Homo sapiens: one gene and its partners. The protein of the gene in region 1 purifies or fractionates together with the protein of each later gene. This does not show direct contact. Each region holds a gene or a part of one and is shown in the gene's direction. Other genes may lie near its edges. The genes, in order: KIAA0232, YME1L1, ZNF146, SLC30A9, OBI1, CNOT10 and NFXL1.

Region 1 (3,500 bases):
CCCTTCCCAACACAGAGGTCTGCAGTGTCCCCTCACCATCTGTACTGTGTCACTGCAAACTCCCTTCCCAACACACAGGTCTGTAGTGTCGCCTCACCATCTGTACTGTGTCACTGCAAACTCCCTTCCCAACACACCCGTCTGCAGTGCCCCCCTCACCATCGGTACTGTGTCACTGCAACTGGCACATGTTGGTTTGCTCGTTCATCTCCCCAGCGAGCCTGGCATGCGCCTTCCACTGCTGGAGTCCCTGTGCCCAGTAAAGTTCCTGGTGCATAGCAGGTACTCAAAGACTTTGAAAATGAAATAATTCTTTATCCTACCCTAACATGGCTAACATTTTGTCCAAGTGACTGAACATGTGGAATTAGGATTTTGGATCCTTCATGGATCAGAGAAGAGAGGCGGTTTTGCTCTGAAACAGTAAAACTCTGCATGTTTGTAACTCCACAGGAAAACACTGATGATTTATTATTTCTTCTTTGTATATAGATAGAGTATCTCACCCTTTTGGGGAAAAAAAAGTCTTTTTGATGTGTTGAAAATTGTTTTAATCTTAGGTGTCTTCTGTTTATGAAGCAAGATGTACAGGAGAGAGAGATTCTGGAGCAAAGTCAGATGGCTTCCGCGGAAAGATGTGCTCCAGCGCCAGCTCCACCTCGGAAGAGACAGGCTCAGAAGGCGGAGGCGAGTGGGTGGGCCCTAGTGAAGAGGAGCTCTTTTCTCGAACTCATCTCTAAACCTGCAAAATAGTACAAATTATTGTTTAAAAATGATATGTGATGGAAAATTACTCTTCAGTGAGACCTGTTAATCTAAAACAACAACTTAGGTTTCCTCTTCAATTAACTGATTCAGATTGGTAATAATTATCTTTCTCTTCTTGCTTATTTTAGAGTTGAGGACAGCTATCCTGTTAAAGATTTTTTTTCCCAGCTGTTAAATTCTTGGCTATTTGAAATAGACTAGATTGTGTTGTCAAATCAAGAATGGGTGTGCATGTGCTTGTCTTAGAAGTATCACTGCTTTTTGCATCTTAACTGCAGTTAATTTTCCTTCCGACTGCGGTTATATCACTATGACCTTACTAGCATTGCAGTGTCAACAACCACTTCTGCTCTTCAGAGACTTCAGCTTTGGAGCATTTAGGCTTTGTTCTCCAAGAACTGGGATATCCATTCTTACCCTACAGTGGCTTGATGCCTTTCTGAAGGCGAGAGGGAAGCCTGGGTGACTCAGCGGTGGTCTCCATTCAGCAAAATCTCATGTACATTTCCAGTAGGAACCGCAGAGGTGTGCTTTTCAAGACTCACCAAATACTGTGTTTTCTCTCTTAGGATTTCTTTTCCCCTAAAGTATCACGGAAGATACTATGGTTCGTGACTTTCTTGCTAACTGAAGAAGCCAAGGATTTGGGGTGTGGGGTCGTATGCGAGACACAGTGGGGTAAGGGTGCATACCCCACCCCTTACCTGCTCTCATACTGCAGTTACATTTACACCAAAACCCCATGCAGGGTTCTTTGTGGTGAGTGTTCCATACGTGCTAAGGACCTTAGTTACAGATTGTTACTTTCTGGTGACCTATGTTGAATTGAAACCCCCAAAACTTGAAATTGTGAACATTTGACATGCAGTAAAGGCCACCTCATCACCCAGAGAAATCTTTGGCTGCTGCAGCTAGCCGCTTCTTGGCTGTGATGTAGTATAGCTTCGATCTCATTTTGTGTTTGAGAGAATGTTCTGGGCAAGTTCTGTGTGTGGTGGGTTGGGGCGGGTAGAGTCATGAGTTTTCCACATCCCTGTGTGGTGGTTTTGCTGACTGTCGCTCCGTGGGACTGGCTCCCGTTTCTCCTTGGTGAGCCCGGGGAGCCGGCGCATCTTGTGAGTCGCGTCTGTGCATGGCGATCCGCTCCTCCGGCTCTCATGGCATTGTGCCACAGGCAGAGGCCAGGAGGAGCAGTATGTGCACAGCCGAAACATTTTACATTTTTTACATTGTTTTTCTTTTTTAACCAACTCATTGTTTAAAAAACAAAAACAAAAAAAACCTAATCTGTGAAATCAGCGTAGCATGCCTGGAGCATCAGGAATGGCAGAAAAGTCTGATGCGCTCTAGACAGCTTCACCACTCATTTGGGCAGGCAGTAAACACACATATAATTTATTAGCTGGGAGCTGAACTGGCTGTGAAATCTATGATTTGCTTTGAACATTTGGGTTTTGTTGCCTTTTTCTTAATTGATAACACAGAAAAGAAAGTACCATCAAAGACTGTGGAGTCATTGAGGGTCTGTGTGTCCTCACCGAGAGGGACCTGGTGTGCCCGCCGGGTCGATCTTCCCACGTGTTAGGGTTTATTTTTATACAACACATTTTTTGACACTTTAAGGTGGGTGGGTGTGTGTGTGTGTGTGTGTGTGCGCGCGTGCGCGCGCGCATGTGTAAGGTTTTATGTTGCTGTTATTTATTTACGAACTTCAGATACGTTTTTATGTATTTTTCATTCTTCTGGAGCTTCCTAAAAATTGATAAGCATCTGCACTGAAATATAATTTAACAGCAAAAGTAAAAAAGGATTGAAAGTTGTAAATTCCTCATATCACTACAGTGACGATTATTCTAGAAATCGTTGCTTGTGTAGCAAAGACCAAATAAATAGATTTCAGACACAACCTTGAGCACAGTTGATTTTGGACAGCTGCTGTTTATTAGGAAAGGGCTCCAGGTGGCAAAGGTGCACACTTCCTCAGACACAGGTGAGAAGATGCAGCACCTTCCACAGGTGAATGGGACGGATTCGAAGTGAGCAAAGGGATTCACAAATTATGTATTTATTTGTTTTCATAGTTAAGTAGCTGAAGCTCAGAGGCTTTCAGCAACAGAGATGAAAGTGTGGCTTTTTAGTTTTGTGAATGGATGATCACAAAGAAAAAGCATTTTTAAAAAGTTGGCAAACGCTGAAACGCACTGTGGTATGAAGCGCATTGCATTTCCATAGCACTGAAGTACCAGTTTCCATTCCTGGGCTGAGATTGTTTTTCCCGTGGTTGTATTGTTCTGATTTCACGTACACCAGAGTAACTGATTTTTTTTTGTTTGTTTTCTTGTGGAGTTAACACCAAATAAAAATTGTAAAAAACAGTTTGTTGTTTTTATTTCTCATAGCAAAGCTTCTTTTGTAAAGAACTCCAGCTTCCTTTTACTCATGAGCATCCGTGGAAGAGCAAGTGCCCAGGTTACATTTGTTCTAGATGGAGGTCATTTAGCTCTCATTGCAGACACTGCTGAAAACATTGTGCAGCTTTGCTAGGGAAGAAAGTGGTGTGGCCTGCTGAGAAATCAGCGGCTCCTCCCCATCTCACCCCCAGCACACGCAGGGACTACTACCTGAGTCTGCAAAACACATAGCATTTTTGTCCGTGGATGGTACACAAAGCTCAATCTTTTTGTTTTCTTCTGGGGAAAAAATTAAATCTTTATATGTTAATATGATTGATA
Region 2 (3,500 bases), on another chromosome or scaffold:
TGTTCCTGGGGATGTGTCCTACTAGAGAAGCTGTTACACGAGTGGTGCCAGGGGAAGCTGCTAGGTCCTGCTGGCCATTGTGCACGCCAGGAGCCAGGGTTTGGTGAAACTGCACAATTGACAGGAGCCAGATGCTATAGAAACCACGGGTGTTACAGACAGGAACTTGCTAAATGAGCATACCACAACCAGGAATCAAAACCTCTCTTCCTACAGTGTATGTTCAGTGACTTCCTGACGAAGCTTAACATTGTTTCAATTGGCAAAGGAAAAATATTCGAAGGGTACAGATCCATGTTCATGGAGCCAGCAAAAAGGATGAAGAAGAGCTTGGACACAACCGATAACTGGCACATCCGTCCAGAACCCTTCTCCCTCTCAATCCCTGTACACTGCGGGTTTCTCCAAATGCCTATTGTCTATGATTTGTTTTGTCCATCGTTCTTAGTCACGGCTTAGTTCAGGTTCTTGCCATCTTTCACTTGTTCCATCAGCCTTCTCTCTCATCCAGTCTAGTTTCTTTGTTTGTTTGTTTTATCATTTTTAAATTTTTTGTAAAGACAGGGTCTTGCTTTCTTCACCAGGCTGATCTCGAACTCCTGGCCTGAAGCAGTCCTCCCACCTCAGCCTCTCAAAAGTGTTGGGATTACAGGCTCGAGCCACCATGCTAGGCCAGTCTATCTTCCTTAGTTCTCCATTTTCTTCTATAAGACAGAACTAATCATGTTACTTAGAGAATTAAATTCAAACATGGCTCTTCACAGTTTGGCCATAACCTATCTCTTTAATTTTTTCTTTCCTTGAATTTTTTGAGATATTCCAGACCCTTGGATGGCTTTTTGTTTGCCCCCGTCCCTAAGCCGCCTTGATCATTTTTAATAGCTTAAAAAGTACTTTTAAGTATTTTATTTCATCATGCCTTTAACTGTCTTTTACTATGTGCTGTCATGTTGTATGCTAGGATACGTAGATGAGTAAGGCATGATCTCTGCCTTTGATCCTTACTATTAGGAAATAAGGTGTATTTTATAGTTATGTTAGTATTGAGAAAATGAATTCTAAGAATATGAGTTATAGCTAATTTAAAAAGTACCGTATTCCCAGACATCAGTCCAGAGCTATATAATCCGTGTCCATGCCTCTTTTAAAAAAAACTTTATTTTTAGAGACAGGGTCTCCCCTTTGTAGCCCAGGCTGAAGTGCAGTGATGCTGTCATAGCTCACTGCAACCTCCAGCTCCTGGGCTCAAACATTTCTCCTGAGTAGCTGGTGCTGCGGGTGCATACCACCATGCCCAGCTAATTTTTAAATTTTTCATCAAGATGATGTCTTACCATGTTGCTCAGGCTGGTCTCAAACTCCTGGCCTCAAACGATCTTCCCACCTTAGCTGTTTTGGGTTTGAGTAACATGTAATTGTTACTTGCCTTTAAGTGCCTCTCTTTCAGCTCATGTGGACAAGAAAATAATCCCTATCCTGTTGTTTAAAAGTGGGTATACACACATTTTTGTGATTTTTAGACTTTTTTGCCTGATTTTCACACAGTTTTGACTTTAATTTTCTTCTTTATTAGAAGATATGGGTAACTTTAGAACCTCTGAGTTCAAGGAAGGATCTAAGCAATGAGGCCAGAGGAGTGAGATGTCCTATGGTAACCAAGCATACCATTTCTTTGTCAAGTGGGCTTTTGTTTATGGCTGCTTAGGGGCTTAAAAGCTCCATGGACTGGTGAGGATTATCATTTGAATGGAATTTCCCCAATTCAAGAACCTTACTATTATCCTCCAATCAGTTCTACACTGTTGGGGAAAATCCCCTGGACCTTATATAACATACTTTGTAACCCTGCAGTTAGTTACTCTTACACTCTTGTCATTATAAATGCTTGATCAATAGTTGATAGACTAGCTCTTGATCAGAGTACCCTTGTATGGAGAGAAGGAAAAAATGCCATACATTTCACTTGATTCTGTGAACCATAATGCTTAGGACAGTAGTGGTTTGGGTTTGATTTAAAAAAAAAAAAAGTTTTTCTCATTCATGCTGAAATGTCATCTCTTTATTTAAGGATACCATTAGGAATATAATTTTTTAACCTATGTCAAACCTCATATGACTGATCTCAGTAAAACGAACTGTGAAAATATTTGCATCAATTTATTTTTAAATATTAAAAAAAGGAAATATATTTGTTAGACTTTTAAAATCTGATTGTTTTAACTGATAATATGTACTCCTTAGGTTAAATATCTTGATAATATTAATGCATACCTGGTTGACCCAATCTTTTACAGCCTTCACTTAACTTAAGGGACCTTGGATTATCTGAACTAAAAATTGGACAGATTGATCAGCTGGTAGAAAATCTACTTCCTGGATTTTGTAAAGGCAAAAACATTTCTTCCCATTGGCATACATCCCATGTCTCTGCACAATCCTTCTTTGAAAATAAATATGGTATGTTAATGTGTTTTTTGTTCCAATTAAATATTTTAGCACTATTAATAATTATAGATACCATTTCTTAGCTTTCACAGTAGCGTTTATTGTGGGCTGGGTTCTTTCCTGAAGTGTTTTTTTTTTGTTTTTTTTTTTGCAATTTTTCATATTGAAATAGTACCAGATTTACAGGAAAGTTGCAAAGATAGTACAGAATTTTGCTTCCACTAATTTTGGCATCTTACATAATCATGTTACATTTGTTAAAACTAGGAAATTAACATTGGTACAATAATTTTTTTTTTGAGACGGAGTCTCCTTCTGTCAGCCAGGCTGGAGTGCAGTGGCACAATCTCCGCTCACTGCAAGCTCCGCCTCCCGGGTTCACACCATTCTCTTGCCTCGGCCTCCCAAGTAGCTGGGACTACAGGCGCCCGCCACCACGCCCGGCTAATTTTTTGTATTTTTAGTAGAGATGGGGTTTCACCGTGTTAGCCAGGATGATCTTGATCTCCTGACCTCGTGATCCACCCTCCTCAGCCTCCCAAAGTGCTGGGATTATAGGCGTGAGCCACCGTGCAGGCCTAACATTGGTACCTTATTTTTAACTAAACTACAGACTATTTGAATTTCAACAAAATTTGTTTTCACCAAATCACTAGTTCTCTGCAAGTGTCCTTTTTCTTTTCCAGGATCTGATCCAGCATACCACATTGCATTTAGCAGAATGGGGGGGCGTTGTTTGTTTTAATTTTAGGTGACACACATTTAATTCCAGGAAACATACTTAATCTTTGAGAATACATTGATTAAAAAAACAGTTGTTATCCCTTTTGTGGAATGTCTACATTTTTTTTTACTTGAATCTCATAACAGTATGGTAGTATAATAAGTGGGTTCATACTAGTCTGAAAAGGGATGTCAACTTTATGAGTTTTTCTTTGGATGGCACTTAAACAGGCCATAAAAATCCAGGAACAAAATAGCAGGTTTGACTAGTTTATAATGAAGGTTTGATTTGAAGCTGTCCTTTGCATAAACTTAATTCATTAATTCTTGAC
Region 3 (3,500 bases), on another chromosome or scaffold:
GCACTTTATGAATTTAACTCCTTTGTGCTATGGTTCTTTGTACTCCATTTTAGAAGAAGCCTGAGAAGATGATGCACAGATAGAGAGGCACCAGGACTTGAGAGGCACCAGGACTTGGGAGGCATGTTGATCCATCTCCAGGAAAGACTGAGAAAAAGAGCGTTGAATATAAGAAAAAATACTTCCTCTGTTCTCAGATCGTATTTGTTTTAAGGCCACACCTTTTTGAAGTTTTCAGTTTGAAACACAACCTGGACTGAAATCATGAGGGAGGTTGTGTAGGAAAGAATCATCAAGGGACTTAGTTGGGAGCTTCTCTACCACAGCTTACTCCTTATGGTATTAACCCCCTTTAAGTGTAAATGTCTTTGGTTTAAAACGTTTGTACCTCATCTGTTACCAGAGTGTTCATACTGGAGAGAAACCCTATGAATTTACTGAATGTGGGGGAACTGTTACTCATATGTTGCATTTCGTCGAACGTGCAAGTCATGCTGAAGAGAAACCCTGTGCTTCTAAGGAGTATTGACAAGCCCTTAGCTAGATGACAATCTCATTGAGAAGCAGAAAATTCATGCTGGAGAGAAACTAGTGAAGGTAGCAATACTTCATTGAATATTAGAAAATTTTTCTAGAGAGAAAGCATTGAATATACTGAGTATGATAACATTTCCTCTCAAACCTTATCCCTTACTCTGCATTTGGGAGATCATACACAGAGAAGCCTTATAAATGTAAGAGATGTGGAAATATCTTCAGCCAAAAGTAAATCCTCACTCATCAAGAAATTTTTACTGGAGAGAAACCTTGTGAATGTGGGAAAGCTTCCATTCAGATGTCACACCTCAGCCAGCAGAGAATTTACAGTGGGGAAAACCCCTTTGCCTGTAAGGTATGTGGAAAAGTCTTCAGCCACAAATCAAACCTCACTGAGCATGAGCATTTTCACACGAGAGAGAAACCTTTTGAATGTAACGAGTGTGGAAAAGCCTTTAGCCAAAAGCAGTATGTCATTAAACATCAGAACACCCATACTGGCGAGAAGCTTTTCGAATGTAATGAATGTGGAAAATCATTTAGCCAGAAGGAAAACCTCCTTACGCACCAGAAAATTCACACTGGAGAAAAACCTTTTGAGTGTAAAGATTGCGGGAAAGCTTTCATTCAGAAGTCAAACCTCATCAGACACCAGAGAACTCACACAGGAGAGAAGCCCTTTGTATGTAAGGAGTGTGGAAAAACCTTCAGTGGCAAATCCAACCTTACTGAGCATGAGAAAATCCATATTGGAGAGAAGCCTTTTAAATGTAGTGAATGTGGAACAGCCTTTGGCCAGAAGAAGTACCTCATAAAACATCAGAACATTCACACTGGAGAGAAACCCTATGAATGTAACGAATGTGGAAAAGCCTTCTCTCAGCGAACATCACTTATTGTACATGTGAGGATTCATTCAGGTGATAAACCTTACGAATGCAATGTTTGTGGAAAAGCCTTCTCTCAGAGCTCATCTCTCACTGTGCATGTGAGAAGCCATACAGGGGAGAAGCCCTATGGTTGTAATGAATGTGGGAAAGCTTTCTCTCAGTTCTCAACCCTTGCTCTGCATTTGAGAATACACACAGGTAAGAAGCCTTATCAGTGCAGTGAATGTGGGAAAGCTTTCAGCCAGAAGTCACACCACATTAGACACCAGAAAATTCATACTCACTAAAAACCCCATGAAAGCCTTGAAAGTGGGAAAGCTTTCATTAGAAATTTGCACCTCATCATGCCCCAGAAATAATCCTTCTGAAGCAAAGCACCACGAATGAGGTTAACTTTAACAAGTACTAAAAACTTAAGGGACACCAGAAAATTTGTACTGAAGAGAAAGACATGCATATGATTAAAACCCTGTGTCCAACAGAGAAACCTGCAGCAGAGATAATGGTGAAAGTTTAGGCACATTTTCACTAAAAGTGGGAACAGAAAATGGAGGCCTGTTTTTTATTGCTACCACCATAGATCTGGAGATCTTCGCCAGTAACAAGAAAAATTAAGTTGTAAATATTGGAAAGGAACAGACAAAAATAGATGACATGGTCATCTACAACTAATATTAAGACTCCTGTGGTATTGATTGAGCAGAGCAGAAGAGATTTCAAAAAAAGACCTATGCATTTATTAGAATTTGGAATATGATACAAGTGGCATCAGGAAATGAGGAAATAATGGAACTATTTTTTTTAAGTGGAGGTAGTTTGTTCTCCAAGGGGGAAAAATAGACCATGAACTATACACAAAAGTGAATCCAGAGATTAAAAACAGAAATATGGAAAAGCTATGTACTAAAATGCATATGACCTTGGGAATAGGGAAACATTCCTTGGAACAATTTGAGAAATACTTAGCGGTTCTACTTATGAGTATGAATGCTCAGGAAATACGCACTAGGATATTTACTGTGGCTTGATTTGTAGTAGCCAAAAATTAGAAACAACTGAGAAAGCCCATCACGAACAATATGGGAAATTCTTATGTAATACTATATATCTGTAAAATGCAACAAATGAAATCCACATGTATTAACAGAAAGATCCCAGAATTGTTGAGGGGGGATCAAGTTGCAGAATGATACAGATAGTACAATGACTTTTTTGTAAATTTGAATTAAAAGTTTCCTCATAAAACTCAGTACTATCTATTGGTAATGGATGCATATATGTATGTACATGTTTTTGAAACGGATTGGAAGGATACAGACCAAACTCTTGATAGTGGTCACCTGTGAAGAGTGGAGAAGGGAAAATAATGAGTGTGGGAGGTGGGATGGGTATTGGTTAAAGGGGACTTCAGCTTTTTATATAAACATCCACTTCTCTTTCAAAAGACTTCAAGTAAATATAAGAAGATACTGATTGATTCTGGATTGTGGTATAGGGATATCTTGTCTTATTTTTTGTACTTTTCTGTATTTTTAAAATTTCTCAAAATAGGAATGGGAGTGAGGATGGGAATGCTGTATCTGTGGAAGTCATGTTATACTGGATTCATTTCCAATTAAATACTAAACATTTTATAGAAAATATTTCTAAAATTTTATCACGGATGAATGGATGGACTTGCTCTCTATGTAATATGAAATTAATCTATTTTATTAAAATTTAAAAGGACAGCACAATCCAAATCTGTTTTAATTATTTTAACATGGCATACACACTATATCGGGGTCCCCAGCTCCCCCCAGCTGCATGGCAGGAGGTGAGTGGCGGGTGAGCGAGCATTGCCACCTGAGCTCCACCTCCTGCCAGATCAGCGGTGGCATTAGTTCTCATAGGAGCGCGAACCCTATTGGGAACTGTGCATGTGAGGAATCCAGGTTGTGCGCTTCTTATGAGAATGTAACGCCTGATGATCTGAGGTGGAACAGTTTCATCCTGAAAACATCCCATCCCCATTCTTCTACCCCCACAAACCGTCCGTGGAAAAATTGTCTTCCATGAAACAGGTCCCTGGTA
Region 4 (3,500 bases), about 35 Mb from region 1:
TCCACTGTATGACAGCCTAGGTTCTTTGGGTGTGGGCACCTTATTAGGCATGGTCTCAGCATTCCTCATCTACACTAACACAGAAGCACTCTTAGGGCGGTCCATCCAGCCAGAACAAGTACAACGGCTCACTGAACTCCTGGAGAATGACCCATCAGTAAGGTCAGCCTTATTCCAGTAATCCTGTTAAGGCTTACAAAAACATATTAAAAAACAGAAATGCCTGGTTTGTAAATACTTCCAGAGGAAGTTTTGGATTCCTCGTCTTCAGAACGTTTTAGTCTGTAACTTTTCAGAATTATAATCCTGGAAGTAAGAAAGAATACACTTAGGAAACTCCTTCTAAGTTTCCTTTTAAATTTTCTATACTTCTAATTTTTAGAGTAAGGAAGAGTCAAGTTGATATAATGAGAATGGAAGTTTGCAAAGTAGTTGTCTTCTTAGTGGAAATACTTAATATGGAACCTGTAGAGTTGCCTTATATTCGCATTGCAATTACAAATTGAATATATTAAATTTAAAAAGATTTTTGTTCATTGGGCAATGATTACCAAATTAAATATAATTTATATTTACTTTGAAAATAGACTTTGTTTTAGCTTATTTTAAGTATTTTTCTTATAATCTTTATCTTTTAAATTATGTAAAACTAAAGAACTGGAGACTTAGGAGATAATCAGCAGAAGAGATACAGAATTCTAATAGTGCTTTTCAGTGAAATTCTAGCAGCATTGTGGTTTTATAATGAAATAAAAGAACAAACCTTTAAAAACCCAGTTTTCTACTAACTCGCTCTATATTTTTTCAAACTTTAAAATAAGATTTTTTTGTGTATTGTACTTGAAATCTTTAAGTTAAATCTTTTTAAAATGACCCGTATATCTGAATTAGTAAAATATATTAATGATTACTAGATTTATATTCTATGCCCTATATGTTTAATCTTGAAAAGTAACTATCTTATTGGAACAAGATTAGAAAATGAGAGATGGGCACAGTGGCACATGCCTATAGTTCCAGCTACTTGGGAAGCTGAGGCAGGAGGATCACTTGAGGCCACGAGTTTGAGGCTAGTGTGCAATGATCATGTCTGTGAATAGCCACTCACTGTACTATATTCTGGGCAGCATAGCAAAACCCTGTCTCAAAAAAAAAAAAAAAAAGATTAGAAGTTGAGCATTATGAAAGTCAGTATTAGAGTTATTAACATAATGTGAGATAATCCAAATTAATATCCTTTCTTTGTGATGTTTTTGTCTGGTTTTGGTATTAAGATAATACTGGCTTCAGAGAATGAGTTGGGAAATGTTCTCTCCTATTTTTTTGGAAGAGTTTGTGAATAATTGGTGTTAGCTTCTTTAAATGGTAGAATTCAAGTATCTGGATATGAGCTTTGCTGTGTGGGTAGTTTTTTGATTAGTAATTATATCTCTTGTTATGGATCTGTTCAGATTGTCTGTTTCTTCTTGACTTAGTTTAAGTAGCTTGTATTCTAGGAATTTGTCTTTTACTTCTAATTTACCTAATTTGTTGGTATACAGCTATTTATAATATTCCTTTGTAATCCATTTTATTTCTTTAGTGTTGGTACAAATGTCTCATCTTTCATTTCTGTAATTTGAATCTCTCCTTTTCTTGGTCAGTGTAGCTAAAGGTTTGTTCATTTTCTTGATCTTTCTAAAGAACCAGCTTTTGGTTTAATTGACTTTCTCTGTTGTTTTTCTATTTTCTTTTTCATGACTTTCTCCTTTAATCTTTATTATTTTTTTCCTTCTGCGTGCTTTCAGTTTAGTTTGCTCTTTTTCCACTGTCTTAAGGTTAAGCTTTTAATTTGATGTTTCTTCTTTTTTAAAATAGACAATTACAGCTACAAATTTTCCTTTAAGTATTGCTTTCTCTGCATTCCACACATTTCCATATATTGTGCCATTTTCATTATCTAATAGTATTTTCTAATTTCTTTTTTTATTCTTTTCAGTTATTTAGGGGAGTATGTCACTTAATTTTTACGTATTTGTGAGTTGCACAGATTTCTTTCCATTATTGATTTATTATTTTGTTCTATTGTGGTCAAAGAATATGTTTTATATTAGTTCTGTCCTTTTAAATTTACCAAGGTTTGTTTTATGGCCTTACATATAGTCTTGGATAATATTCATGTGCACTTGAGAAGAATGTATATTCTGCTGTTGTTGTAGAGTGTTCTGTAGATGTTTGTTAGGTTTAATTGGTTTATAGTGACTTCAATTTCCCTAATTATCTTCTTGCTCTATTGTTCTATCCTTTTTTTTTTTTTTTTTTTAGATGGAGTTTTGTTCTTGTTGCCCAGGCTGGAGTGCAGTGGCACGATCTTGGCTCACTGGAACCTCCGCCTCCCAGATTCAAGTGATTCTCCTGCCTTACCCTCCCAAGTAGCTGGGATTACAGGTGCTCACCACCATGACCAGCTAATTTTTGTATTTTTAGTAGAGACGAGGTTTCACCACTGGCCATGTTGGCCAGGCTGGTCTCAAACTCCTGAGAGACGAGGTTTCATCACTGGCCATGTTGGCCAGGCTGGTCTCAAACTCCTGACCTCAGGTGATCCACCCGCCTCGGTCTCCCAAAGTGCTAGGTGTGAGCACCGTGCCCGGCCTCTGTATCCGTTACTGAAAGTATCGAAGTCTCTAGTTATTGTTGTTGTATTAGCTCTTCCTCCCTTCATTTCTTCTTGGTTTTGGCATCATATATTTTGGTGCTCTGTTGTTGCTACATACATGTTTATAATTTTGTATATATTGTTTAATAAGTAATGTCTAAAAAAGAGCTATAAACTGAAAGACTGGCAAATTCGAAATTTTGTGGAAGAGTGAATATCTGTGGATTCAATTATTGGAAAAAATACGTTAGTAATCCAGAAAATTCATACAATTTTTTTAAACAGTATATTAGTTACCTACTGCTGTGTGACAAATTGGCCCAAAACTTAGTGGTTTAAACAACATATTACCATCTTACAGTTTCTGTGAGTCAGGAATCAGGGCACAGCTTATCTGGGTCTTCGACTTCAGGGTTTCTCATAGACTGTAATCAAGGTGTTGACTGGGATTATAGTCATCTCCTGGGGAAGGGGCTGCTTCTAACCTTACTCACATGATTGTTCGCAAGATTTAGCTCCTTGCCAAATGGGCCTCTTCAACATGGCAGCTTGCTTAATCAAAGCGTGCAAATTGATAAGGCAATAGAGAGCGAGTGTGAACAAGACAAAAGTCACAGGTTAGTCACCTGGTCTTGGAAATGACATCTCATCACTTTGCCATATTTGGTAGTTATAGCCCACATTCAGTGAGAGGAGATCACACAAGGGCTTGCGTATAGGTGGCAGGGATTGATCATATGGGAGCCCTCCAAACAGTTTTCTGTCTGTAGTTAGTTATATGTAAGAACATAAGGAAAAAGTATATCTAAATATATTTATTAGTTGCTACTCACATACCAGCCAAATAATGAAATGTGTTTAT
Region 5 (3,500 bases), on another chromosome or scaffold:
ATCATTAACTGCCAAGAAATATCAGGTGGTTCCATGTGTGACTATAATTAGAGACTGTTGTGCTTCTGTATAAGATTGCATCTTCTTCTAGAAGAATAATACCAATTTAAAGGATGTGTTTCTGTTTCGTCCTCTTTGTGGTTTGCCATAGGTTTTTTAAGCTTATATCAGCGACTTCCCCTGTGTACCTAAAAACAAACACATAACCATTTTCGCACCAATGAAAGGAAAAGTTTTGACCTTATCTTTTCTTTTGCTACCACTCTCTTATTTTTAAGATTGTAGATAGATAAAGACTTGGTGACTAATTCCAGGACAGCAATAAGCAGCTGCTTCAGAGTACCTCATGCAAAAGAATGTTGTGATTTATGAAACTGGTTCATTTTTTTCAGTTTTTCTTTGAACGAGATACAGCATGGTGAAAAAGGCAAACCTCTAGGATTTTTCGGCCTAGAAAGGGAGATAAGATCCATGCCATCAGCACTAGATGTTACAGGCAACTCCTACAACACCATCTTGACCCAAGTGATCAGCCTTTAGCTTGAGTTCAAGTTTATCCACAGTGGAGTCCTCTTGTGCTGAAAGGAGATGGCTTTGTAGTACTCAGTTCTACAATCACATATTCAACTATTTGCATTTCCTTAAAATACTATTCCTGTGTGAAATTACTAAATCTTATCTCTCAAAATTATTAATGAGCTCCATATGGTATTTTAAAGGAGTTCCCCTGTATATTGGCTCTCAGGTCCTCAGGTTAAGTAGCAGAGAAATACTTGCAACTTAGATGTAAGCCATCTTCCACATATAAAATAAATGTTGTTTGGGCTCAGAAAAGGCCAGGGTGAGGAGAAGAGAGAGCCTAGTGCTTTTAGATAAAAAAGAAACTACAGACATAATTGTACTGAGTTTGTTATAAGTGTGTAGGAGGGAGAAGTGCATAGTTTCTTTGGGTATTGATGACCAGTGTTAGTACCTTGATTTGTTAGAAGACAATAGGATACTAAAAGGAATGCCAACTCGGAAATTACAGTATTTATCAATTTGCCTTGTTCCCTTTAATTTCCCTGGTTCTTCTTGAGCCATTGGTAAGCACTATATGATCTCCTTTGTAGTTATTAAACTTCGTTTAAAGTTTTGGCAGTAAATATTTCTTAGAACATGAGGCTTATAAGGGTGATATGAGGGATGGATATTAAAGAAGAATACATAAAGCACAGTTAATTTTCCTTTGCTCTTTTAATGGTCAAATGTTAAATTCAATACTCAAAGCTACCCTGGGACTTCAGAATTCTTTGGGATATTGAATAAGCCCATTTTCTATGCCTAGTGATGCTAGTAGGTAATAGGTTATAAACTGGGACATAAGTGAATGAAAAAACATGGACTGCAGAGATAAAAACTAAAGTGTGGAGTAATAACATACTCAACATAATCAAATACAGGAATACAAAAGATTCAGAATAAAGGATTACTTAGCATGAATGAAGTGGACTTTTTTTCTGATGTTACCTGGAATGGGTGAGTTTTGAACCATCGTGAGGCCAGTGTCATTACCCAATCAGTGTTGAGAATGCAGAAGGGTTAGCTGAAATATTCATTATTCTTTTAGGTGCAAAAGGTAGGCAGAACTCTGCCCTTCATAACTTTTATTCACCTAACCTTCTTGAACTTGAAAAGATCTCTGATAGTTGAGGAACTAGCCAGCCTATAATGAGAAGTATTAGAGAGTCAAAGGACTGTTGAGAGACTGAAACATAGCCATACAGTAGTGGTGGGGGGCAGGGAAGGGGAAAGGAAATCAAATGAGTTTCTAATTTAAGCTTGTCATCATCATCAAAAAGCATTCACTAAATGCCTCCCCTTATGGTGCTGTGCTTGAGAGCTTAATTCATTGTCTGCATATATGAGGAAGTAAATGGCTTTCCTTATATCTTCAGAGAAGCAGTAATGGTGTTTATCAGTCACTTAAAGAATTAACTCTCCACAGTCCTGGTTGGTGTGCATTCATGAAGATAAGCAGGTGCCTAGAGCCCAGAGGGAACCTGGATGGGTCTAAGTCAGGGAGTTAGACTTTATGCCCCCAAATAATGTTCTCTACCTTATTTCTTCTGTGATCCTTGTGCTGCAGCTTATGTGGGTAAGTAAGTAATACAGTCAGAAGTTCTTGAAATTCATCTAAGTAATAGCCAAATTTTTGAAATACGTTTTAAAGGCTTCTTGGTTTAAACCTTTTTTGGTGACAGTTATTCTTGTGACCCATTCACTTTAAATGTAAATGTTCTGGTCAAAGAATTTCCCTTTCCCAGGTTAGTGAGGTTGGTTTCTAGTCTAGGGAGTGTTATTTTTCTTTGTAATACATAAAAGCAATGAGTAGGGAATTTAAAGGAAGTAGCTTCTAAGAAGACTCTAAAATTTAAGCACACTAGTTTTCAGTGTGTCCAGAATCAGTGTTGAGCCTCTAGATTTTCTAGCAATTGGTGTCCTGTTAGGTAATTTTTAGGTGTTATACAATTCAAGAAAGAAAATCATACTTGGAAGGATTTTTTTTTTAATCGAAGAACAATTCATAGAATTTATTAGAAAATACTGATCCAGGCCTGGCAAGTGGCTCATACCTGTAATCCTAACACTTTGTGAGGCTGGGGCAGGTGGATCACTTGAGGCCAAAAGTTCAAGACCAGCCTGGCCACTGTGGCAAAACCCTGTCTCTACTTAAAATACAAAAATTAGCTGGGCATGGTGGCACATGCCTGTAGTCCCAGCTCTTCGGGAGGCTGAGACAGGAGAATCACCTGAACCCTGGAGGTGGAGGTTGCAGTGAGCCAAGATCACACCACTACACTCCAGCCTGGGCAACTGAGCAAGACTCTTTCAAAAAATATAGATAAATAGATACATAGATAGATAGATAGATAGATCCAATTTTGAGGGCCCTAGAAGTTGTGAGCCAGAACGTTGGAAAAGCCTTTTTGAAGAGAAAAAATCAAGTGGTTAAATCATATTAGATTTGTTATCACTAGAAAAAAATTTTTAAACAGCACCCCAGAAATCAATTTCAAAGCTCAAGAATTAACTCTTCAGCATTAGTTTGCCGATATTGCATGTGGTATAATGTTACCTTGCCTAGAATATTCAGTTATGTGAAAAAGAAAAAAAATCACACATACATTTGCCATTAGTATGGTCCCTTAATGACTCTAAGCTAACTAACATAGTTTTGTTTATTTCCCTGGACAGGAGATTTGCAAAGTGCTTGGGGAATATGGTTTTAAAATGCTCAGTAGTATTCAGTTTCTGAAGTCATTCCCAGTAGTGATTTTAAGTTTCTGAAGGCCATGTTCTACTATTCAGTTTTCTGATATTATCACTCTAAAAAATACGGATGGCTCATGTTGTAATTTTTACAAGTCACTTTTATTGTAGCTTTTGCTTACTTATTTTCAATTTGTTATTTTAGGCAAATAAAAAATTGAAATTGGAAAATGGTGGTCTGGTGAGGG
Region 6 (3,500 bases), on another chromosome or scaffold:
CTCAGTTGTATTTAACTCTATAGCCTGTAATTTTAGTTACTGCTTCATGCTGTTAGGGAGTCATGAGACCTTTCCTGTAATCATGAGTACCATGATACTCTATAGTATCACCCTAAAGTGTGACACAGGTAGAGAAGCAAGTTGTCCCTTCAGGCTCTCTGTAATCCTTTATAGGCATAAAGTAATTTTTAAACCCCATTAAAATTCAAAAATGAGAATAATAGCTACCATTTATTGAATGCATACTGGGTGCCAAATTCTGTATTAAGTGCCTTTTATGCCTTATCTCATATAATCCTCACATTCAACTCTTGAGGCAGTAGGTGCTTATTATCTCAGTTTTAAAACCAGAATTTAGGAAGTCTAATTTAAATTTACACAACTAGGAAGGGGAAGAACAGATTTAAACCAGGCCTTCTGACTCTTGAGCCTGTTCTCCTACCTGTCTCAGTCTTCATAAATTTGTATGTCCTCACGTTTCCTCATTACTCCAGTATTATTACTGATGATTTTATCTAGTGTTCCAGAATCAAAAGAAAGATGATGCTTACTGATAATCTAGTACATGCACCCTATGACCCCATAGACAGTTTCTTCCAAGACAAATTTGTTTGGTTTTTGAGAATAAGTTCAGCCTTTAAACTTTTTTTGAATAAGCAATTCCTGCAAACTTCCAGTTAGGCCAAAAAAACTTTGTGAAGTTCTTTCACTAGCTTTTATTGTTTATAAGGTTTGTTAGGGCCTTCCAACTCTTGAGTTTCCTAGAAGTGTTTGTACTTGTGGTTACTGACTTCTTTAAATCATACTTCTGTTCGCAGTCACATCGGGCACAGTGACACACCTTTTCAACCTATTCCATTTTAATTAGCAAACGTCTAATTTCACTTAATGAGTAGTTTTTCTTTTGGCTGGAGCAGTTACTAGACTATTTTGGTGAGTCATAGAATATGTGGCAAAGTTATTTGTGTGATAATTATTCAACCATTGCTGAATCCAAAACGCCATAGTTTATCTAAAAGCTTTTCTGGCTAAACTCTTCTTAACTCAGTCTCTCTCCATTACATAACTACAGAAAGAGTTGCCTTTGGAAATTGAGTTTTCACTGTTTGAAGATACTGTTTTTAATCTCTTTAAGATAGTGACTTGATAAGTGAAGATTATAAAAAGTTCCCAAACTCATTGAGATGCACATGTTGGTCAGCTAGGACCACTTGCTAACATTTGAACCATGTCAAGCTTAACCACGTGGGTGGTTGACGTCTGCTGAAGTCCAGTTACAAAATTTACAATTCATTGTGTGTAGTGAACCTTCAGGTTCCTTGCCATTAGTCAAACCAAGGCTGTTAAATCCATGTACTGTATATCAGAGTTCTATGGAAGTGTTGGTCTTAGAGTTAATTACTTAATATTGAACAATAATTTATTGCAATCTTCATAATGGCAAAGGTTAGTTTTAATACAAGTAGACTTCCAGTTTCATGTGTTACATGGAATTGTGCAATGGTTGTAAAGCTTGATTAAAATTTAAAAGCCCATTGCTACAGCTTACATAAGGGGGTATACAGTTTGAGAATGCAAAGTGTCATGCTTTTTTTTTTTTCTTTTGTGTCAGTTACAGATGTTAGCCTTTAGTGAAGCCCATAAAAGCCTTTTCTAACCATCATGTGTGCAATAATATATTTTTATTATTGAGTACTTTAAAAAAATCTATTCTTTTTTACGGGAACGAAACCTGAAAATATACTTTCTAGCCCTATGGCCTTGGGCAAGATAATTAAGTTTTCTGTGCTGGTTTCCTTATGTATAAAGTGGAAATGAAATTATCTATGTCCTCGGCCAGGTGCGGTGGCTCATGCCTGTAATCCAAGCACTTTGGGAGGCCGAGGTGGGCAGATCGCCTGAGGTCAGGAGTTCAAGACCAGCCTGGCCAACATGGTGAAACCCCATCTCTACTAAAAATACAAAATTAGCCAGGTGTTGTGGTGCATGCCTGTAGTCCGAGCTACTCAGGAGGCTAAGGCAGGAGAATCACTTGAACCCTGGAGGTGGAGGTTACACTGAGCTGAGTTCGTGCCACTGCACTCCAGCCTGGGTGACTCCATCTCAAAAAAAAAAAAATTATCTATGACCTTGAGGTATGGTGAGGATTAACCTGTAAAAGTTTTAACATAGCAAGTCTGGCACATGGTAAATAGTTAACTATTTTTGTTTTGTTTGATACAGAGTCTCGCTGTGTTGTTCAGGCTAGAGTGCAGTGATGTGATCTTGGCTCACTGCAGCCTCTGCCTTTTGGATTTAAGCAAGTTTCCTCCCTCAGCCTCCCGAGTAGCTGGGACTACAGGCACGTGCGACCACACCCAGCTAAATTTTTTTTTTGTATTTTGTATTTTTAGTAGAGACGGGGTTCACCATGTTGGCTAAGCTGGTCTCAAACTCCTGACCTCAAGTGATCTGCCTGTCTCGGCCTCCCAAAGTGCTGGGATTACAGGCATGAGCTGCCACGCCCGGCCAGCTATTATTAATGTTTAAATTTTACCTTAGTTTTTACAAAATGAAATCAAACTATGAATACTACGTGACATTTTTATGGGAAAGGTCATTTTGAGTTTGTTGCACGCCTGGTGTAGCCTCTTGTAGGTTGTGAGACTAGGAGATGGGAATCCTACTCAGAAGTGGTGTTACCAATTGAAACAGGGAAGATAGCTTCACAGTGACAAGGAAGATAATTGTCTAGCCATGTGCTGGGTACTTAATAAAGTCTCATGAAAACATTTTACCTAAAATTTTATTATGTGTGGCACAGAAGAATGAAAATAATTTTTAGTATGTGAGAGTAATTAAAATCTAAAGATACTGTTGAAAGTATGGAAAAATTCAGAATAAGAATGTTGGCCTATGTTCCTTTTTATTCATATGAATTCTTTCACTTTTGCTTTTTATTTCCTTAATGTTAAAATATAACCTCTGTTGATTGCTTTATAGGTCCACTCAGCTGTTGAAGAAATGGATGGATTAGATGATGTTGAAAACAGCATGTTGTACTATAATCAAGCAGTCATTCTTTATCATCTGCGGCAGTATACAGAAGCCATATCAGTTGGTGAAAAACTTTATCAGTTCATAGAGCCTTTTGGTATGTTATCTGTCAAGTCAAAAATTTCCCTATCTTCCCTATACTTGCAGAATTCTCTGGTACTTTTACCTAGATAACCTAAATCCGAGAAGTCCATGCCAGTATTCAAAGAAAAGCCGTATCAGCTTTGCTTAATGGTTAGAAAAGATAAAAATGTAATCCAGGTTTTCTTTGAGTGTCCCTTCCCAAATTTTGAAGATAACTGTTAAAAATGCTGTTGGAAAGTGCTGAAAACACTTAGTGATGTTTGTGGGGTTTTTGCTGTTTCAACACTATTTTAGTGTACCTGATCCTTTCTTACTTTAGTACATTAAGGAAGTAGCATTTTGGAATGTTAGGGGACAGTGAGGTATTTCATTTTTGCCCT
Region 7 (3,500 bases), about 41 Mb from region 1:
ACCCATAACAAAAGAGCGTAAAAAGCTGAAACCAAAATAACATTTTTTTTTATGTTTAGAAGAGAAATATTTGGGATTATATCCTAAAATGGTGGCTTAGTACTTAGTCTTTCACAAAGCACAATTAATGGAAAATTGACTGTGCTTGCTACTAACCAATATCAGGTCATGAGAAAGAAGTTATTGGGAATTCATCTAAAAATTGTGTACTTGGATAGATGTATGAAAGTAGGCCAACGATATTATTGTTAATGTTAAATTTTCCAAAGACTTAAATCCATTTTTGCTTGTTTTAGTTTTGAATGAGTAATGTGTTAAATTTGTTATTTAGAACAGAAGTTTTAGCACATTTTAGAGAAATGTCTAAAACTTTATGAGGTACCAGTGTACAGAGAAAAAAGTGTTATAAATCAGAGGCTGGGTGCAGTGGCTCACGCCTGTACACCCAGCATTTGGGAAGCTGAGGTGGGAAGATTGCTTGAGTCCAGGAGTTTGAGACCAGCCTGGATGACATAGTGAGACCCCTCCATCTCTATAAATAATCAAAAATTAGCTGGGCATGGTGGTGTGTGTCTGTAGTCCCAGCTACTTGGAAGGCTGACGTGGGAGGATTGCTTGAGCCCAGAAAGTTGAGGCTGCACTGAGCTGTGATCATGCAACAGCACTCAGCTTGAGCAACAGGTTGAGACCCTGTTACAAAAAAAAAAAGAGAAAAGTATTACAAATAAAAAGTATACAGCTTGTTGAATTTTTACAAACTGAACATAGCCAGGTAACCAAAACTTACATCATTAAACAGAACATGACCAAAATTTTCAACACCTTCCTTGCATCCTTCATAGCTATCACTCTGATTTTGAACAGTACATTTTTTCTTGTTTACTTTATATAAATGGAATCATGCACTATGTACTCCTTGTGTCTGGCTCAATGTTTTGTGGTAAGATTCATTCATGTTGTTGTAGTTTCTTCATTCTTGTTGTAGAGTATCCCATTGTGTGAATATACTAAATTTATGTATTTTACCATTAATAGGCATTTGGGTAGTTAAGGAAACTTTTTAATTGTCAGACTTTTTTTTCAGGCAGTTGCTATCCCTGCCCAGAAACCGTAGATGTGAAGTGTAATTGTGGCAATACAAAGGTGACAGTGCCCTGTGGCCGAGAACGTACCACAAGACCACCCAAGTGCAAGGAGCAATGCAGGTGAGTTTGAAGCTTTGCACAAGCTTCCATCTGATGTTGTACAAATTTAAATTCATATTGGCTTTTAATAATTTAATTTTGCTTTAGTGTTTTAAAATATTAATATTCACAGTATACTCATTCTATATGGAATCAGAAGATATGTAAATAGATAATTGTCCTTTAGATGTAATTATTCAATGACTAAAAGTAATTTTTGAAAATTGTACTTTATGATTTAGTCGACCACCAACTTGTCATCATACAAGTCAAGAAAAACATCGCTGTCACTTTGGTTCTTGTCCACCATGTCATCAACCTTGCCAAAAAGTTTTGGAGAAATGTGGTCACTTGTGTCCTGCTCCGTGTCATGATCAAGCATTAATAAAGCAGACTGGCAGGGTAAGGGAATAATACTATTAGAGAAATAGTGCATTGCTGTGGGTTGTACTTTCTTGCTTTTACTTAGTTTTTCAATGAGCAATGATTAAGCACTTATTGGGAAGCACTGTGCTTGGAGCAGGGTACAAGGTAATCAAGACTTGATTTTGTTTTAAGCAACTCACAGTGTAGGAAAGGAGTGAAACCATTGTTTGCAAATACAGTGTGATAGTTACATTATGATCATGATACAGGTGAATTTGGCAGTCCTCCTTCATATATTGTGGTTTAGGGTTATAGATATCTCCTATAATCTTATTTTAAAGATTTATTCACTTTTTAATATTTTATTTAATATTTATTTATTTTTAGTTATTTAATTTTTTTTTTTTTTGAGACGGAGTCTCACTCTGTTGCCCAGGCTGGAGTGCAGTGGTGTGATCTGGGTCACTGCAACCTCCACCTCCCGGGTTCAGTGACTCTCGTGCCTTAGCCTCCTGAGTAGCTGGGATTATAGGTGCCTGCTACCATGCCCAGCTAATTTTTGTAGTTTTAGTAGAGATGGGGTTTCAGCTTGTTGATCAGGCTGGTCTCGAACTCCTGACCTCAAGTGATCTGCCCGCCTCCGCCTCCCAAAGTGCTGGGATTACAGGTGTGAGGCACCACGTCCAGCCCAGCCTCATGAACATTTATTGAGCCCTTACTAAATATCAAGCTTTTTTTTAGGTGCTGAGGAACAACAGTGAGTAAAATGATGGAGATTATATTCAATTGCTAGATGTTGGAGTTTCCAATTGTTTTTCTCATTTCCTTATTGGAAGTAAAGGAGGCTACACTGCCTTTGTTCTACCATTTATAAACTGGATTCTGTCTCAGTTATTAATATCAAATGTCTGTGGAGAGGAACAATTTCATTTAATACAGATAAAATGAAATATTTCAGTAAGCACAATTTATTGATTATTTGAAAAAATTTCAACCTGCTTGAGCAGAGGATACATGGAACTATTTTCTTAGATTCTTAAAATGGCCATATGATTTAATCCCTCTGACTTAAAATTCTTATGTATTTTATTTGTAGCACCAGCCTACAGGCCCTTGGGAACAGCCTTCTGAGCCAGCATTTATTCAGACTGCATTACCGTGTCCTCCATGTCAAGTTCCTATTCCTATGTAAGTATTAGAATTTCAATTAAAAAAAAAAAACAAAAAACTTTTGACATAGCTTAAAGGGTATCTGAAGTCAATCTCCCTTTTTTCTTAGTTCAGTTCATTATTATTTCAGGCCTAGCCTATCAACTAGTGTGTCTGTCTTAACCTTCATTCTTTTCAAACATGTTTGTCATACTTGCATATAAACCTACTATAGATATCTTTTTTTGAGTCTTTACCCCCAGTTGGAGTTTGATGCCCTTCTTAGCTTTCCATAGCGAGTGCATGCAATTACAAAAACAAATCCAAGGAACATCATTTGTTACTTTTCCCGATGATTCCCATACTGGATTGTAAGCTCCCTGAAGACAGAAGAAAGCCAGGTTTTAGATAAGGCAAACTTGGGGAATATTTAAAGGAAGCCTTGGAAATGAGAGGAAGTAGTTTCCTGGATGGGCCAGTGAATGACTGGGACTGAGCTCTAAGGAGCTGAACCTACAGTAATACGGAATCCTGGAATTTTTTATACTTCCAGCAGAGGTTATGGAGTATAGGGGAAAAAGCACAGAATGCTGAGAAGCAACATAAAGTTAGAAAAGGGGCTGTTGTCTACAACTGAGGTGCCAAATTAAACATTGGTATTTCTGGTGTATTGGTCTTTTAAAGAGAGGATTGTTTTTGTTTTTTAATTCTAAAAGCTTTCATTTCCACAACATTCCTCCCAGTTGAAATAGCATGTATATTTTTGTGTATTGGTCACACAGTCAAGTTGGGAGGCAAAGT

What was found.
Region 2: the proteins of KIAA0232 (region 1) and YME1L1 purify together in Homo sapiens (affinity purification with mass spectrometry, with the first as the bait; one large-scale study listed by BioGRID). This does not show direct contact.
Region 3: the proteins of KIAA0232 (region 1) and ZNF146 purify together in Homo sapiens (affinity purification with mass spectrometry, with the first as the bait; one large-scale study listed by BioGRID). This does not show direct contact.
Region 4: the proteins of KIAA0232 (region 1) and SLC30A9 purify together in Homo sapiens (affinity purification with mass spectrometry, with the first as the bait; one large-scale study listed by BioGRID). This does not show direct contact.
Region 5: the proteins of KIAA0232 (region 1) and OBI1 purify together in Homo sapiens (affinity purification with mass spectrometry, with the first as the bait; one large-scale study listed by BioGRID). This does not show direct contact.
Region 6: the proteins of KIAA0232 (region 1) and CNOT10 purify together in Homo sapiens (affinity purification with mass spectrometry, with the first as the bait; one large-scale study listed by BioGRID). This does not show direct contact.
Region 7: the proteins of KIAA0232 (region 1) and NFXL1 purify together in Homo sapiens (affinity purification with mass spectrometry, with the first as the bait; one large-scale study listed by BioGRID). This does not show direct contact.

Annotation. Positions count from the first base shown.
Region 1 is NC_000004.12:6,880,227-6,883,726, forward strand, and holds part of KIAA0232 (uncharacterized protein KIAA0232), read left to right. Parts: intron 1-560; coding exon 561-740; 3' UTR 741-3,500.
Region 2 is NC_000010.11:27,144,385-27,147,884, reverse strand, and holds part of YME1L1 (ATP-dependent zinc metalloprotease YME1L1), read left to right. Parts: intron 1-216; coding exon of another isoform or gene 217-387; intron 388-2,294; coding exon 2,295-2,457; intron 2,458-3,500. UniProt on the Homo sapiens protein: ATP-dependent metalloprotease that catalyzes the degradation of folded and unfolded proteins with a suitable degron sequence in the mitochondrial intermembrane region.
Region 3 is NC_000019.10:36,235,606-36,239,105, forward strand, and holds the end of ZNF146 (zinc finger protein OZF), read left to right. Parts: exon of another isoform or gene 1-53; 5' UTR 54-835; coding exon 836-1,714; 3' UTR 1,715-3,163; downstream 3,164-3,500.
Region 4 is NC_000004.12:42,070,530-42,074,029, forward strand, and holds part of SLC30A9 (proton-coupled zinc antiporter SLC30A9, mitochondrial), read left to right. Parts: coding exon 1-162; intron 163-3,500. UniProt on the Homo sapiens protein: Mitochondrial proton-coupled zinc ion antiporter mediating the export of zinc from the mitochondria and involved in zinc homeostasis, zinc mobilization as well as mitochondrial morphology and health.
Region 5 is NC_000013.11:78,635,156-78,638,655, reverse strand, and holds part of OBI1 (ORC ubiquitin ligase 1), read left to right. Parts: intron 1-3,457; coding exon 3,458-3,500. UniProt on the Homo sapiens protein: E3 ubiquitin ligase essential for DNA replication origin activation during S phase.
Region 6 is NC_000003.12:32,705,688-32,709,187, forward strand, and holds part of CNOT10 (CCR4-NOT transcription complex subunit 10), read left to right. Parts: intron 1-2,982; coding exon 2,983-3,133; intron 3,134-3,500. UniProt on the Homo sapiens protein: Component of the CCR4-NOT complex which is one of the major cellular mRNA deadenylases and is linked to various cellular processes including bulk mRNA degradation, miRNA-mediated repression, translational repression during translational initiation and general transcription regulation.
Region 7 is NC_000004.12:47,883,584-47,887,083, reverse strand, and holds part of NFXL1 (NF-X1-type zinc finger protein NFXL1), read left to right. Parts: intron 1-1,084; coding exon 1,085-1,205; intron 1,206-1,426; coding exon 1,427-1,586; intron 1,587-2,646; coding exon 2,647-2,738; intron 2,739-3,500.